2 separate regions of the Homo sapiens genome follow, and region 1 is linked to region 2. Evidence: fine-mapped expression QTL. A gene starts in region 2. The other region holds a variant in brackets. All regions are shown on one strand. Distances are between the middles of the regions.

Region 1 (9,040 bases), 510 kb before region 2:
CACCAGCAGGGTTAGATAAAGACATTAGGATCCTGAGAATGGGAGGCAGTCCATGAAAGAGATAGTGCGCACTGGACTTGGACTGAGAGAGGCCTGGGGCTGAATTCCAGATTCCAGAGCTGGCTCCTTCCAGTAGAGTGAACCTGGGCAACTCTCTCAGCCTCAGCCTCTACCTACCACTGCCAAGTGGGGATGATGATAATAGCTCCTCAACCAGCTGCTGTGAGGACTACGTGGGCTGATCTGTAAGAAGGACCTAACATTAACATAGTGCCTTGATGAAGCCTGAATGACTCGCACAAAGCAGGCGCTCAGACCAGGGTTGAGGAGAACAGGGGAGCTGGAGGGGCTCGGAGTCATCACTATCTTAGCAGAAGTGGTTGCTGCTTTGTGGATAAAACTGGCGGCAGCTTGCCCCAGCCCTGCGAGTCATTCAGGCTTCATCTGGGCAAGGAAGCATTCCCTCCAGCCTTCTGCCCTCCAAACTTCCTTCCGAACCTTTTGATGGCCTCACGCTGTCCTGAGGATCAAGGCTGGGATCTTAATACTTTTTCTAAAATCCAGCCCCTTCCAGCCCCCGTGGACACATCCAGACAAGCCTCTGCACACTTCATTTGTGAGTTCTATCCCGTCAGCCCCATTCTCTTTACCTTATGCCCTCACAAATGCTGCTCCCTCCACCGGGAAGACTCTTCTCTTCAGGGTCTTATCACCCTTCAGGTCTCAGCCAAATGCCCCTTCCTCAGGGAAGCCCACCGTGCTACTATCGTGTCCTACACTTTTCCTTACACGAATCATCACACTTGAAATTGCCTGTTCAATGCCTGTCTCTCAACTCTTCAGTGAACTGTAAGCATAGGGTCTCAGCTGATAAAAGCTAGCCATTACTATTACTATCCATTCAACAAATATTGACTGAGCCCCTCCTGAGTTCCAGGCACCACTATGGGGGCTGAGGATACTGCAATGAACAACAAACAAAACACGGAAGTTCCCTCCTGGAGCTTTTATCTTACAGAGGGAGACTAGCAAACAACAAGAATGAATGTAAGGACAGTGTACACCCAGTGGTGATAAATACTACAGAGAAAAATATAGCAGGGAAGGGAAAAGATGCAGTTTGATAGAGGGTGGTCAGGGAAGGTCTCACTGAGCAAAGACCCAGAGGAGGTGGGTGGATTGGGGAGAGTGTTGGGGGTGGTGAACATTCCAGGCAGGTTTTAGGGCCAAGAAGGAGGCTTAGGGCAGATGTTTCAGCTGGGATGCCTCCTTCCACATTTTCTGACTGCCTCAGAGCAATGATCAATTGCATGGCCTCTCTATGCCCTAGGTAAGGGAATCCACGCAACAACCTAAGTCATGCCTGTGGCTCCCGGGAAGGGACCTGGCACAAAGGACGATTTATAAAATCTGAGTGCAGAACATCCCTTGGGGTCCCAGCAAGGTCGGATTTGATACTGGCTCACCTCCTCTGAAGGGACTCTGGGACAGGACCATTCCTAGTTCCTCGTTCAACTTTCATATTGGCCTTCTAGGTTGGCACAGGCTATTGGAGATGAAGGCTCTGGGGCTGATTTCACAGGGAATCCCAGACCACATACCTCTGCTCAATGTTCGAATCAGCAAAACACCAAGTCCTGCTTGCAGCAGCCTCTGCCATCGACAGTTGCAAGCCAAATCCTTTGGGTTTTGTTTTTGTTTTAGAAAGGACTTAGAAAAGGGCTAATAGTGTTCTTCTCAGAAGCAGGCAGAGAACAAATGCCATATGCTCTTCTAAATTAACCTTCCCACACAATGACCGGGACATTTCTATCTGGGAAGGTCTATTAAATCTCTCGAGCTGGAGGCAGGGGCTGGTTCCCTCATCATTATTCCTCTCTACTCCCCAAACATCAAATCTAGTATTGAGACCTGTACTTCTACTTCCCTGACATCTCTTGACTTTGTCCATTTCCCTCCATCTCACAGGGAAAGCCACCACCATCCCTCATGTAGACTACAAAGGTAGCATCCCAGCCAGTGTCTCTCTACTAACCTTGGCCTCTGCCCATCACTGTTCCACCGATGCTAGGGTGATTTTTCTTTTCTCTCTTTTTTTTTTTTTTCCTTGAGACACAGTCTCACTCTCTTACCCAGGCTGGAGTGCAGTAATGTGATCTCCACTCACTGCAACCTCAGCCTCCTGGGTTCAAGCGATTCTCCTGACTCAGCCACCTGAGTAGCTGAGACTACAGGTGCCTATCACCACACCAGGCTAATTTTTGTATTTTTAGTAGAGATGGGGTTTCACCATGTTGCCCAAGCTGGTCTTGAAGTCCCGACCTCAGGCAATCTACCCACTTCAGCCTCCCAAAGTGTTGGGATTACAGGCATGAATCACCGTGCCCAGCCTAGAGTGGTTTTTCTGATTAAAAACTGGATTGTAGTTCTGCCCTTTGGGCTCCCCACTGCTCTCGAGATAAAGTCCAATTTCCCAGGTGCACGGGCTTCTACAGTCCTTTATGATGGCACCCTCTGGCATCTCTACCCACGAGTCCCAGGGGGAGCATCTGTGCATGGTGGTTTGGTAAGCTTCACTTGTTGAAGCATCCAGCACAAGGCTGGGCAGAAGAAATTGCGGTTAAATGCGTGAGATGGACCAATATTCTCCAGCTAGCAGGAGGCAGAGGAGCTCCCTGTCCCTGGGCCAGACCCCTATGGGGAGGGTATTTATACAGATGCTGATTAATTGTTTGCCTACACACAGTATTACAAACAAACAGGGAATTAATTCTTCATCTTTCAGTTCCCATTCTAAGTTTAATTGCCTACATGTCATATACATATATATATATATATATGTAAAAACAACTCTGCCATCAATACGCAACAGTTGAGTTATGAACCTCCCGGCCACCTGATGCCTCAGATCAGTGAGTGTGGGGTAGCTCCTGCCTCCTCGGTGTACATCCACCAGGAGGAGGCTGCTTTGGGGAAACAGCTGGAGAAATTCCCAACATATATCTTTGGAAGGGCATTAAAACACCTCAACTGGTGGACCTTTGACCCAGGGAAAGTAAAGGCAAGTGCATATTTTGGGTACCTGCAGAAGAACAAAAAATACAATACTAGGTAATAAAACAGTGATTCAGAGCATGAGCTTTGGAATCAAATTCTTACAAGCTGTGTGATCTTGGGCAGGTCACTTAACCTCTCTGAGCCCTTACATCCTAAACTGATATGAAGCAGATTTGAGGAGCAAATGACATAACCTAAATAAAAAACTTAGCATGGTGGCTCAGACATGGTAAGAAGTCTACTCAGGTTAACTAACATTATAGCTTTACCTACTGTTACTTCTGATGTAGGAGCAAAAACTGTTGTCAAAGCCTCTGTATCACAACAATAAGACTAACCCAGCAGCATCAAGCATTTCTTGAGTACCTACTATGTTCCAATCCTGTTCTAAGAATTTCACAAATATTAATCACATCTTCCTAAAAATAACCTAACAGGCTAGTACCCCAATTTTACAGATGGTGAAACTGAGACAAAGTGAGATTTAAGGAACCAGCCAGGATTAAACAGCATGTACTATATAAATTCAAATATATAAGTGAAAAACACCTTCCTCTCAGTACTGTTTTATTGTGTAACTTTCACCATAAACTATTCATAATTGATAATCCTTCAAACCTCTGTTTAACCCCAATTCCATATGCAAATCTGTAGTTTTATTATATTAATATTTCATTATATAAACAATAAAGTAAAGACATTCCTTAAACCTGTATCTTTAGCTTCTAACAGTCATTTTTTTGCAGTCTTCTATATTAAGATTGCAAGATCAAGTGTTGACAAGAATACAGGTGTTGGTTATTTTTTAATGCGTGTCTTTCTTTCAAAACACAACAGTAATGTGCTCAGTGTAAAAAACTGAAAAATGGGCAAAACCAGACATTAAATTCTCTACAATCCACCACCAGGGATGACCACTGCTCACATTTGTTGAATTTTCCTTTTGGGCTGATTCTGCACAATTTTGTTTACACAGTCGAGTTCACAGGATGCACTTGCTCGGCAGTGGGTTTAACTCTGGGTGATTATGCATGTTCTAATTACTTAGCCATTCAGGACACCCACTGGTCTTACAACATAGGTTCTCTGCAGATTATAACTCCACAGAGTTCTTTCTTCCTTTCAACAGAAATTAAAAAGGAAATTAAAGCCACAGACATACCAAATAACACCAGGAACACTGGAGTTCCCGGAGACTAAAAATCAAAAGGCAACTTAGACCACCCAGCATCCCATTATTGCATA[C/T]GTGAATGAGCTTCCACTGAAAAACCCAAACAAGGCTGATAGCCCTGATGGATGATCCGGGCTCCAGACTCCGCTGCCCCAAAGGCACAGCCAACAACTGGCTTCTTCTGGGGACCAGCCTCCCGACCCTGACCACACCGAAGGCCAATCCTCAACCTCTTCCCTGCATGCTGGAATTGGCTGAAATGGGGCTGGCAGGGGTCTTGGTGATAACTTACTCTCTCCAATAAGAGATCTGAGCATATTGATTACATTAGGAGTGATTACAGTGGGATAAAAGAAACCCTGCTCTTGGTGGGTGTAAGCCTTGATTTAGGAACAGGGCACAGGGCTGGAGAAGGTAAATGGTGCCTGATGAGCAGATTCACGCCCAGGAACTGAAGGACAATGCAGTGCCCTTGAGAGGCCAGCAGAGATAGGTGATGAGGGGGCGGGCAGTGCAGGCAGCGGGGACCAGCAGCAGACAGAAGCAAGGCATCGGGAGCAGTGGTGGGGTTCTAACGCTTCCTGCGGGATCCTGCCAAAGGAGAACCAAAGGCAAGAGGAGAGCAGAAAGCAGGACTGAGCCCTCCAAACAGCACTGTACGTGAAGGGTGGGGAGGAGCATCGCAGGCGCAGATCACAATGTGCAGACTGACTTCCTGGTTCCACAGTGTCTCCAAATCGGCCTCATTTGTCCCTGGTGGGGTCCCAGCATAAGCCTACAGCTTCTCTATCAGCTGCCTTCCAAGGGGGGTAGCCTTTTGCAGCAGATCAGGTTGAGGGGGTTATGGGAGGGGACGGAACAGGACCATAGAGCCTACCAGCCACACCCTCCATGTGGCTTGAAAACATCTTGTGCACTGCAGGAGCAAGAAGACACCATTCTCCACCACCAAAACTCTGTCCACCTCCACCAAAATAACTTACGGAATCACAAAAAGTGGTCTCCCAAATCTGTTCACCTTACAGCACTGTTTGGGCAGTTGGGTGCCGAGTAGTGGAGATCAGCACACCTTAAAGAACAACCCTTTGATCACCGTGTCATCTCAGATGGAGCAGTCTCACACTGAGCTTACAAACTCACCCCATCGACCAGCTGAGGCCTGTTTACCCTTCTGCGATTAGAAATTCATTCATCCATTCAACAAACATTGACTATCTACTATGTGCTAATGATTTTAATCATGATGACTAACAGCAGTGAAACATGTACTGCTTGCTGCGTATTAGGCACTGTACAAAGCATTTTTATGTCTTAATTCATTCTACACAACAATATCATTATTCCTATTTTACAGGCAGAGAAAACGAGGACAGAAAGAGAAAGTCATCCGCCTAAAAGTCACATAGTCGACAATAAGTGGCAGAGCTGGAATTTGAACCCGGGAAGTTGCTTTCAGAGACCATGCTCTAATGCACTCTACTGCCTCTGTGTACCAGGATCTAGGTACACATAAGTGAATGAAACAAGTATGATCCCTGCTTACATGGAATGCACAGATCAGAGTGCAGACCCACAATCATAAAGGCACAACTGATAAGTATGATAACTGCCCTGGAACAAACACTCTGGACACTGTGAACAATAATACTAAGGGTGAGGAGGGAAACAGCTAAGGTAGAACGGGTGACCTTGCAGGAACACAGTTCTAGGCAGAGGTAACAGCACCTGCAAAGACCCTTAAACAGGAAAGAGCTTGGCATGTCTAAGAAATGGAAATGAGGAGGTCAAGGCAGGCAGATCACTTGAGGCCAGGAGATCAAGACCAGCCTGACCAACATGGCGAAACCCCGTCTCTACTAAAAATACCAAAATTAGCTGGGCATGGTGGCACAAGCCTGTAATCCCAGCTACTCGGGAGTCTGAGGCATGAGAATTGCTTGAACCCAGGTGGCAGAGGTTGCAGTGAGCCAAGATCATGCCACTGCACTCCAGCCTGGGCGACAGAGTGAGACTCTGTCTCCAAGAAAAAAAAAAAAAAAGAAAGGAAAAGGAGACTAGCGTGCCGGACAAGGTGGAGGATACCAGGAGAAGATGTGCTTGAAGACCAGTTAGAACATACAGGGTATGTAGTCTGTGGTAAAGGGTTCAGATTTCACTCCAGGTGCAGTGAAAAAACTCCCAAAATACCCACCTTGCAGAGCCCAGTTGGGAGAGCCGTGGTTAAGGGAATCACCAGGCTACCCCAAGCTGTGTGACTTTTGTCAAATGAGTTCATCTCTCTGGGTCTCACTACCCTTATATGTAAAACAGGAATAAGAATACCTACCTTATAGGGTTGTTTTATTAAAAAAGTCAGTTACAAATGCTACCTATGCTAGTGCCTGGCATATAGTATATTGCTTCCATGATACTTGGTAGCCTCAGCCTCCACAAACTCCAAGTTTTCTCCATGTATTCAATAGCCTTCCTATTTTAGTAGGGGAAGTGAGACTGATAAGGGTAGAGACAAAAAGGAGAAGGAATGAGGCCAAATTAATTTGTGATCAATACTTCTTGTAGCTATTACGGTGACAGGCACCAGATAAACACAAATAGAGCTGAAGACCAGCTTCTCTGCCAGCTGTTGCCATCAGTTGCTTTGGACAATTATGCAGGCAAATGCATAACCTTTATATAATTAAGCATTCCCTGACATCTTATTTGCAGCTCTTCTTTTTTCATCCTCCCCCTTTTATTTAGTCTGCTTTCAGTTGTGAAGGTCCAGCTGCCGGCTTCACTCGGATGCGCTGACTTACGGTAATTTTGAGTTAAGCTTTATTTTACAGTCTATGTAAATAATGAGGCGGAGGCAGACTCAATAAAAGGCAGCCTGGCTTCAGCCAATATTCAACTCTACAGCCACAGCCGGACTTTAGGAGTCCGGGTGGTTGGCACAGACCCTCGGACAAGAGTCAGGGGGTCGGCACTGTGCCACAGCCTGGCTGGACTCCTGGAAAACAGGACATCTGCCAGGCCAAGGGGCAGACATTTGTGGCTAGGGCCTACTCCCCCTCCAAACTTCACTGTGAAAGAGGCATAACTGTTTCCAATTCTTCACCCTTTCCACACCCGTGCACTTGGCCATGCCACCTTGCAGCCTCTCTGGCTGGAGATAGAATATATTTATCTGCCCCACTGATCTTGGGCTTGGTCATGTGACTTACCTTGGGGTCAATGGGACAAATGAGCAGATGCTTAAAATATGCTTATAGAGCTGGGCTTGCGATTTTGTACTTCTAATACTGCCAGGAGAAAACCATGCTGTGGGGCAGCACATTGCTCCCAGGAGAAAGAAAAGCAGGTAGGGCAAACCTGCACCAGCTTGTAGAATGGAGCTAAGCTTGGTGAGCTACGATTAGCTGAGCTCTAGGCTGGGTTCAACTCTTGTGTTGCACACATCATATTACATTTAAAAATAAGCACTGATGGTTACTCATTTGAAAGTATCTGCTGAATACTTATTATGTACCACACTTTTATTATTATTATTATTATTATTATTTTGAGACGGAGTCTCGCTCTGTCGCCCAGGCTGGAATGCAGTGGTGCCATCATAGTTCATTGCAGCCTTGACCTCCTGGGCTCAAGTGATCCTCCCACCTCAACCTCCCAAGCAGTCGGGACTACAGGCATGTGCCATCATGTCTGGCTGATTTTTAAATTTTTGTTGTTGTTGTTGTAGAGACAAGGTCTCACTGCGTGGCCCAGGCTGGTCTCAAACTCCTTAGCTCAAACAATCCTCCCACCTCAGCTTCCCAAAGTGCTGGTATTTATTACAGGCATGAGTCACTTTCCTAGCCTTGTATGAAATTTTATTTTATTTATTTATTTAAAAATTGAGATAGGATCTCGTTATGTTGCCCAGGTTGGTATTGAACTCCTGGGCTTAAGCAATCCTTCTGCCATGCCCTCCCAAAGTGCTGGGATTACAGGCATGAACCATCACACCAGGCAGTACCATGAGTGCATAGAAAAGGAAGCAAGCAGTTAGATAGGAATTATCTGTTCACAAGTTTATCTCCTTCACTAGACTACAGGCTCCTAGGGGCTGGGGATGGAGTTTTTTCCTTTTGGTTTCCCAGCACCTAAAACAGTTCCTGCTTAATAATAATAGTAATTATTATTGTTATCATCATCGTCATGCAGTAACCACAGAACGAATAATTGCAGTGTCTATTTATGGAGTCCTACCATGTGCCAAGCCTGTGCTAAGCTCTTTACCAACGTTATTACACTTGATAGTCACAATTAAGGAGATGAATCCTGTTTCCATTTTTCAGATGGAAAATCTGAGGCTTGGGGAGGTGGCTTCATCAGTTCCTAACCCTCATGTGTACAGCACAAGCCCTTCCCACTTCTCCCCCTGCACTGAGCCTCCAAATCCTTGACCACTCTGTTCTGGATGGCATCTACAAATTGTTCATGCCCATCCTTTTGCTTCCTCGCTTGGGCACACAGCACAGCCCTTCCTCATCATTTTCTGCTTGTTTACTTGTTCCTTTGGTCCCCCAAACCAAACTAAGAACCTCAGGTAAAAATCCTAAGGTGCATGGATTGTGTCTGTGGAAGGCATAGTTAAGAGCTTGGGCTCTGAGGTCACAAGAGTGTGGGTTCGAATCCTGGCTCTGCCATTTACTGGATGACCTCATGCCTATCCCATTGTCTCCCTTAACCTCACTTTCCCCTCCTGTAAAATGGGGATTGTGATAATAGAAATAACTTCCTCAAAGGATTCCGAAATGGTGTAAAACACGAATGAGCAGTGCCTGGCAT
Region 2 (8,945 bases):
AGTCTGGGCTTGGAACTGAAGTTTAGAAAGAATGTAGAGAATGCTGCTGGCCCAGAACTCACCAGTGCTGAATCTTCATGGGATCCAGGATGTATTTCCTGTGCAATCTGTGAAACTTCTAACTTATTACTGCTCATTGTTTTCCTCCATGAATATGTTGGGTAAAAATGCAGGTTGCTGAATACTTGTCCTGTTCTTGGAACAGCCTCCATTAACTAAAGCAGCAAATCTAATAGTGAAATAATCACCAGAAATGGAAAATGTTTCTTTCTGAAAGGTGTAATTATGAGAGGTATCCCATTAACAATGTCTTGAAAAAAGATAAATTTCCGATTATCAGTACATTCTATGGCTGTACTGTGCAAACACTTGACTTACACCACAGAGAGTTTATGGACTATTTTTTTTTTAAGGCTGAGATAAGATTTGGCTTAGCAAAAGGCACTGAAAACATAAGGATGACATTAAATAGTTAAATTACACACTATGTTGTAATGCAGAGTGAGAAGGGGAACCCCCAGAGATTTAATAGCTTCCTGAGTCTATAAAACCCTAGGTTTACAAATGCAAGTCAAATAAAAAACTATTAAAGTTGCAACCAAAAGTTGATTTGAGTTAAAGGTCATTAAATAAAAAGAAGGTAACAGGCAAGATCACTTGGGCCCAGATACCAAAGAAAATGCCAAAATAAAACACCAAGGGCCGTAAAATACAAATCAAGCTCTTCCTCTTGAGATAAAAATCCAAAAATAATTTGTTTGAAGTCCTAGAAAGGGTCCAAATGTCATACACAAAGCACTGTACGCCTTCATGGTCTCACGCTGGCTGCTCTGAGGGGACCATGCACTTAGTACCCAGAAAACAGTACAACCTCTTCAGAGAACTGGATGACTCCAGATGTTGGAGATTATGATCTTCTGAATCCATTGGAATTTATGCCAGGAGATTTAAGAGAAGAATTAATTTATGACTTTCTCTACCTGCTCCCAATGTGGGCTCAGCTTATCATCTGTACACATTGTGATGCACTGTAATTACAACGCTGATAATAATTTGCAACATGTGATCACGGTAGTTAAGTTTAAAAAGGGGGTGTTTGTCATATTTTAGTCCCCACATCTGATTCTATCATATTTGCCAAATGATTAATATAGGAATATACTACAGTGAAATCCTTTCACATCGAAGTTTTATTTGCCAGGAAATAGAACACTTTCCTCCCATCTCTCTCCCCATCTTCCCCCACATTTTAGGCTAAACTCAAATTTCCAGCACCAAGGTTCATCTGAGTGAGGACAGGGAGTCTGCTCTTATCTTTGTTCAATTCTGTAAGTTCCGTAGTCACAACTGGAATGGATATGCATCCTTTGTTTTAAAAACACATCCACAAGAAAGAAAACCTAAATCTTATTCTGAAAGCAGATGGGGCATCAGAAACATCAAACAAGTTAAAACCACAGGAATTAAATTATAAATTTTAAACTCCCTTTTATTGAAATATAAGTTTGTTTAGTATATTTACACCACACTTTATGCACATATATACAGAGAAGGTAAATTCTGTAAAATAAAATTTTTTCTTAATAAAAAATGAAAATCAAAACAAAATAAAGTGCATAAAACTGATTTTTTTTTTTCCTTCTGGTGAACATCATCGTTGTCAAAATTTTGGTCGGTTGCGAGAGGGAGGAAGAAATTCATTATTTGACTTAGTGCATACAGCTGACCCTGAATTTGTAGCCTTCAGGCCAAAATGACAAGAGGTCAGGAATGAGTCAGGCAAATTGTCAAGGTCTGCAGGGCTCCCCAGAGTCTGGAGGTCCTGCTCTCTTTGTCCTATCGCGAGCCGTCCCCCTGCTTGGAACAGTGATCTCACCATCGCGGCGCTGGAACAAAGGGAGAACACAGGAAGGGGGCTCCACCAGCCAATGTCACAGCCCTGCTCCGGGGCCACCAGCGCTCTGTTTGGTAGAAAATTGCAGAATTAGCTCAACGGCTCAAACGCAAGTTTTCCTTTTTCGGAAAGGGAATGAGGGGGGGCCCAAGAATGGGGTGCATCTCCCACAGGGACGGCCACTCGGGGGCCAAACCCCAGTAGCCAGTTTCTTCGGATCCAATCCCCGTGCTGGCACAGTAAAGAATCCTTTTATAAGCTGGGTGGAGAGAATGTTACACTTCTCGCCTCGGTGAGTTCGTCCTCCCAGAACTTTGAAAGGAAACAGCGTGGGATTGAAAGAAAGGGGCAGGTGGGTGAAAAGCTGAAGTTTTTAGACACCTTTGCGGGTGGGCGTTGGCCGGCTGGTCCCTGACAGTGGCAGAGGCGACCGCCCTTCCCCCCATCATCCATACCCCAGCCCCAGATCTCTCTCTTTTCCTCCCGGTGACACTAAGTCCCAGACCGGCGGCCGTACTTGGCCTTACAGTGCAAAATGTGCTTGGCGAGGAAGTCGAGGCGGCGCTGTAGCAGCTGAGCGTGGGGGTCTGCAAGGGCGGCCAGCTCGGGGAAGCGAGGCTCGTGGCGCCGGTAGAGGCGCAGCAGCCGGGCCGCGGCGTCCTGTCCGCGGTGCAGCTCCAGGACGCGCCGCGCGGTCCGCTCGCGGAACACGCACACTGACTGCAACAGCGGCTCGTTATACTTGTCCCACATGCCTGCTACCCGGTAGCCGTGCACCAAGCCCGCCTCATTGTCCAGAAAGACCAGCGCCCCGCCCGGACCGCGGTGCAGGTTGCTGGTGGCACGCTGCATGACGCGCGGGTCCCACTGCAGGCTGAAGAGGTTGCTTACGAGCCGGTCGAAGTTGGCCGTCAGGTAGTCGAAAAGGATTAAGTCGGTCCATTGTACTAGGTCCACCAGCTCCGCCTGGCTGAGGTTGGCCAGCTCACCCCCGGCATCCCGGAGGGGGCGCAGACGGCCGTCCTCCGAGCGCCAGGGCGCGGGCACCACCACGTCCGTGAGGTTGGGCAGCCAGCGTGTCAGGCTCACCACGCTGCCCTCGGTCCAGTGCGCAGCGCGCAGCTCCTCCTGCACCTGCGCCCACTGCGCGCCCCGAGCCTCCACCCGAGCCAGTGCCAGCGGCGGCACGTGGCGCTGGAGGCCCAGCAGGCGCGCCAGATAGTAAGACAGGGCCTCGCCCTGAATCTGCTCCGGGTTGATGCCGTAGCGCACGCAGGCGCGGGTGCCGTCGGCAAAACGGGCCAGTCGGTTGGAGCTGCGCCCGCAACCCCCGCGCTCCAGGGCCACCATCCGGGCGCCGCGAGCCGCCTCCAGCCACGCCGCCGCCTGGGCCTCCGAAAAGCCCGGGGGCACCTGCTCCTCCAGGCCGCGGCTCCAGAAGACGCCCCCGTGCACCGCGGCGCTCTCCTCCGGCCGGGGCTGCCTGGCTGACACGTGCCACCTGGGCTCGCTCCGGGACTGCCGGGGCGGGCCGTCCGCGCCGGCCGCCAGGGTGAGCAGCGCCCGGAAAGTTTTCAGGGAGCCGCCGCGGGCGTCCCACGCCAGGGGCGGGGGCAGAGGGAAGCGAGGCGCGGGCGCGGGGCCGCCGCTCCGGGCCGGGCGCCGTGGGAGTCGGTCTTCGGGCGGCCGGGAGGCGGGCAGCTCGGTCCGCGGCGGCAGGAGCCCTCCCCACAGCGCCAGCAGCGAGCCCAGCGCCAGCAGCCAGAGCCCCGCGGTGGCGGCGGCGCCCCGCATCCTCCTGCCCATGCTCCCGCGGCTGTGCCGGTGCGCCGCCGCCGCTTCAAGCCGAGCCCAGGCACCCGGGTCCCGGCGGCGAGGCGGGCCCGGCAGTTTGTGGGCTCCGGGGCTTCGGGCGCTTCGGCCCCATCGCGGCCGCGGGGCGCTGCGGGGCTCTGTCCGGCGCTCCGCCCGGCGCTGGGAACTCGAGTCCCCGCCGCTTCCCAGCTGCTTTTGTATTTCGCTGTGAGACCCTCCGGTGGGCGCGATTCACAGGCGCCCGGACCACGTGGGAGCCAGGGGGATCCCCCTCCCCCTCCTCCGCCTCCGCTCCCCGCCCCCCGCTCCCCCGCCCCCTTCCTCTCCTCTTCCACTTAAAGCGGCGATGGCTCCTTCCGAGAGGGAGAGGCGGCCCCACACTCGGTCCGGGACTTGGGGGCCTGGAGGAAGCCGGACTGGCTGCGCCCGCGCCGGGGCGTAGGAGGGGGTGGCGCAGAGCCGGAGTCTGGGGCCTGGCGGGAGGGACGCGCCCTGGGCCCTCGCGGGGGTGTCTTGGTCGCCGGGTCCCTTTGCCTAGGCAGCGCGGGTCTCCTGCAAACTTCAGACAGATTTCCACCTCTTTCCGAGCTCCGCCAGGCTAGGATCAGGCAGGGTCCCTTTGCTTTCTCAGTTTCTGTCTGGGTGATTCACGCTGCTTTATGTAAATCTCTGGGAATGTCTCCGAGCCACAGAGGATGTGATTCCAGCGGAAAGAGGAACCCGCTGTAGCCAACAACTTTGAACCGACACTCCCTTTTCCGAGCTCGCACATCAGCACCAATCAGTATTGGCCGCTCTGCCTTTCCCAACGGACTCCCAGGGAATGAAGCCTCGCTGTGCACGTGCCCCTTGAACACCTAGGCCATCTCCCATTCATTCATGCATCCATTCAACACAGCGACTGCCCCTCAGTTCTGGTTCTGCTTACCAGAAGCAAAATCCACAGATCCGGGTCCCAGTGCTGCTGAAATTTACATTCCAGTGGGACTCTCAGGTTGCTAAGAGAGATTATAGCCATCCAACCTCGTGTTGGGGAGAGGGGAGTCAGGGACGACTTTTCGAAAGAAATGATACCGTTTTGTCCATGAGGAAACTGAGGCACAGAGAAGGGATGGGTGTTGCTCAGGATTGCACAATTAGCAAGGGGCGAAGCTAAAAGTCAAACTCAGGTCTCCTGGCCGCATGCACTTGATTTTCCCTCCATTAAGAAAGATCAGTATTTTTTTTTTAATCAAGTCAGCATTCTCAAGTTTGAAATTCACTGTCATTTGACCACTTTGTTCCCCAAATGTGATTTTTCAATTAAAAGGATTTTTCAAATGGAAAGGAAAAAAACCTCAATCCCATACTGCATTTGATTTACTGCTTTTACGATTTAAGGGAAAAAGAAATGGTGGTGGTGGTGGGGGAGGGAGGTGGTGAAGGAGCAAAGAAAACAAAATGAACAACCTCTTCACCCCAACACATCTTCCAGCCACCTCTGGGTTACATTTACCAGGAAAACTTGGATGCCAGTCGGCCCTCCCTTACCTCTCTGTATCAGAATGAGTCCCAGATCCACACTGAGATTCCCAGGGTAGACACAAGATCAGGGGCATGGTGGAATCCACCTCTCAAAGGCCAGAGTTTGAAATCTGTTTCCTTACATGGTGTGTATCTTTTCTCTCCTTTCATCTTCCCATCAGGTGCACATGGGGGTTTTCAACTGGACTACCTCATCAGTTGGCACTGATTATGTTTTATTCTCCAAAGAAAAAACGTTCTAGGGTGATAGAGCGTTCCAGGGTGATAAAGCAGACACTCTTATGTTTATGGCTGAGCAGAGGCATCAAAAAACCACATTTGGAGTATTGCAGCACTGACCCAGGATACAGTCAAGTGTTTTCACTGGTGTGGTTAAGTACATACTGGATGAACTGTTGAATCTGTTCCCAACCACATGGTGGCTATACCATGCCATTTTATAACTCTTATCTGATAATGAGATTACTATGGCTCCCATATGGTTGCATCGAAATATATTAATCCATTCAAAGGTCTTATTTTTTTGGCCTATGTAAGCCCCTCCTCATCTTTCCCTAGCAGGCAGGGACTATGTCTTATTTTTTTATTTCTTATACCACCTAACATAGTATATTACACTAAATAAGCACTCAATAAATTTAATTTTTTTGTCTTTTGGTTTAACTTCTACTGGGATATATATGTATTTATTTGAAAGGCAGCCTCTTTCAGCGTGGGCAAACTATAAGCAAGATCGCCACCTAGTGGGCATAAGTAGAGTATCATCTAATTGGAGAAAAGTAGACATTTTTAACTGGATGATTAATTGTTGAAGTTAAATTCGGAAGACTATTAAATGTCTACTGTGTACCAAGCTATGTCCTAGGGGATATGGAGAAATCCAAAGTAGTTGGGGTCTCTGTCTTTTTGGCTGCTAACAAAAGCTGTAAGTAACTACCATTGTAAACTTCCTGGGGAGTCTGTCTTGTCCATTGTTTTATGGCTGCCTGGGCACAATGCCTGGCACTTAGTGTGTGTTCAACAACAATTTGCTGAATACATCGTTAGAATGCTAATGAGATGCAAGTAGCATGTATCAAGTTTTTTTAAATTAAATACCTTACTACTAAATAATGCAAAACAATTTTGTCCAACGGTTGTGAGTTATTGTTCAGCTGATTAAAGAATACAAAATAAGAACTTCCACTCATTTGAAAAAGAAAAAATATTGGTGAGGGTTTTGCATGATAGATGTGAGGGGAAGCACATGATTTTAATTCTGGGAGGGCTGGCTTCAAATCCAGAGACTAGAAATCCTGGAATCTCCTAACCATATTGCTGGTACTGATGAAAAAAACCCAGACTTAAATAAATTGACTAAGATCGTACACCTCATAAGATGGACTAATTTTATCATTGAGCAGCCCTTTGCCTATAGCCATAGGACTGAATGCATCATGTACCAGAACAGGATGCATTAATTTGTTAAACTTTAACAAATTAATTGAAATGCAGAAATACAGAAAACCAAAGGAACAAACACTGCCCCTTCCTCAAAGTGGAATGCAGTTTTGGAATGGTATTTGATTATTTGAGACAGGGTTTAAAAACATGCCTCTGTTTAGCTGTTAGATGAAAATACTCCCATTCTCCTTTATTTTCTGGACTGAGGACACTCCCCTGCCACCTGTGGCCAAACCACTTTGGCTCTGTGGGGTAGCATAGTTAATCACCTCAGTCACTTCTGCCCTCTGGCAGTTGCTTGGGGATGAGAAATCCATTTGCACTTTTATGACTTTCTTAATACTCCTTAGAATTTATCCCTGAGCCTGAACTTCCAATATCTTCAAACTTTTCCACAGTCCTGTTTGAAGAATGATCTGGTTCATGTAATGGTGCCTCCTGGGGGAAAGAGAGGAGGTGGAGTTGAGGGTTGGAAGCAGGGGAGGAGGCTTGGAATTGGAATATTTTCCAAGTCTGGCATTAGCACTTTCTGGCTTGTTCCTTGTTCTAGTTATTTACTTTCTGTGAGTTTCAGTTTCAGAACCTGAGAAATAAGTTAATAAATCCTTCCTAACTCACAGGGTTGTCATGCAGCTCAAGTGAAATATTAATAATAACCACAGCATCAGTGGCAGCAAACACTTATTGAACTCTTATTATGGGCTCGGTGTGGAGCTAAACCCTGCATGTGCTTTATCTCATGAAACCCCCCCAAAAGTATTATTATACCCACTTTACAGATGGGGAAGTGGAAGCTTAGCCAATCAGTGGAATGAGGTCATGCAGCAAGGAAGTGGCAGGGCTGCGATTCCAAAATGATGGGGACCAAACCTTTTGTAAATTATAAACTGCTAGGGAAATGTCAGGTGCAGAAATTATTACATTAAATCAAAATAGATTCAACTGAGATGAAATTTTGGTTTCATGTGTTCTCTGGGGTTTGTTCCCAAGTGAAATGGTTAAGAGTGTGAACTGTCAAGCCAGATTGTCTCATTAAAACCCAGTCCTGCCACTTACCAGGCATGTGACTTCGGGTAAGTTACTTAACCCCTTTGTGCCTCAGTGTATATATCTGTAAAATGCAATAAGAACAGTATTACTAGTATTACTAACAAAAATTATAACAATATACAATATCTCATGATTACTAGTAATAGGAACAAATCTTATAGATTATTGTGATGATTAAATTAGTGCTTATATTTAAAGTGCTTAAAAGAGCATCTAAGTGTTCACTATAGTATAGCTGTTGTTGTTCTTTTTCCTTTCTATTTCCTTTCTATTTCACTGTTTCAGTGCTCAGATGGGGATGTCTTCCTTCTCTTGTTGCTGTCCTCCACCAAGTCTCACTTGGTCTTGAGAGACCTAATACAAGTGGTGTTCCAGCTCAATGCACCTGCTTTATGCCTGAAATGGTGTCTTTCCTGATAATTTTGCAATATTTCTTCCCCATGGAGCTGGACCACCTGGCTTCTACCAAGGTTCCCAGTGTAACTCTTGTTAAATGCCCAGAGCCTCCAGCCAGCCTCGGGCAGACAGCTTCTGGCTTCCTCTCACTAGTCTGCCTCCTTCAATCCTGACCTTTTCTGGATCTCCTGAGTTATAAGCCCCTGGAAAAGACAGAGGCGTCCAAATGTACCCTTCCACGTGCTTCTACAAAAAGGAAGAGAGGGGACAAAAGATGTCAGAGATGAGTATAATATTCCATGGAAGTGGTATGACTCCTACATTGGCCACTACTCTTTGACCCTGGGGAGTTTTCTAACCCCCTGGGCTATAATTTTATTATGTATGTATCTCTGTTACGGACTGAATGTTTGTGTTCCTCCTTGCACCATAAATTAATATGTTGAGATCATAACTCCCAATATGGTGGCATTAGGAGGTAGGGCCTTTGGGAGGTGATCAAATCATGAGGGTAGAGCCCTCATAAATGAGATTAGTGTCCTTATAAAAGAGACCCCAGTAAGCTCTCCAGCTCTGTTTTCATCATGTGAGGACCCAGAAAGAATACCGCTGCCTATGAGCAAGGAAGAGTAGCCCCACTAGACACCCAGTCTTCTGGCACCTTGATCCTGGACCTCCCAACCTCTCTCTCTCTGTCTCTCTCTCTCTATATGTAGATAGATAGATAGATATCTCTATCTATCTATCTATCTATCTATCTATCTATCTATCTATCATCTATCTATCTATGTATCTATCTATATATTTTTTTTTGAGGCAGAGT

Alleles and levels. Alleles are on the strand shown, and positions count from the first base shown. SD is a standard deviation of normalised expression in the study named.
For the expression in cerebellum of the gene that starts at base 3,877 in region 2, allele C in region 1 goes with a lower level than allele T (moderate effect, 0.41 SD a copy in GTEx).

Evidence for each region.
Region 1: its variant is fine-mapped to the expression of FJX1 in cerebellum (GTEx, PIP 0.93).

Annotation. Positions count from the first base shown.
Region 1 is chr11:36,121,918-36,130,957 of GRCh38, reverse strand. All of the region lies in intron 4 of LDLRAD3 (low density lipoprotein receptor class A domain containing 3), which reads right to left. Among named protein-coding and RNA genes, the nearest start is that of MIR3973, 120 kb to the right of the region's middle. RefSeq lists an enhancer at 6,929-7,098. The variant C/T (reference allele first, on the strand shown) is at 4,303.
Region 2 is chr11:35,613,392-35,622,336 of GRCh38, reverse strand. It overlaps FJX1 (four-jointed box kinase 1), which reads right to left and starts at 3,877. Exons shown (of 1, transcript NM_014344.4): 1 at 1,472-3,877. The coding sequence starts at 3,700. The coding sequence ends at 2,387. RefSeq lists enhancers at 2,288-2,922, 2,923-3,557 and silencers at 3,130-3,399, 3,410-3,669, 3,690-3,759, 3,857-4,018, 3,840-4,169 and 1 more.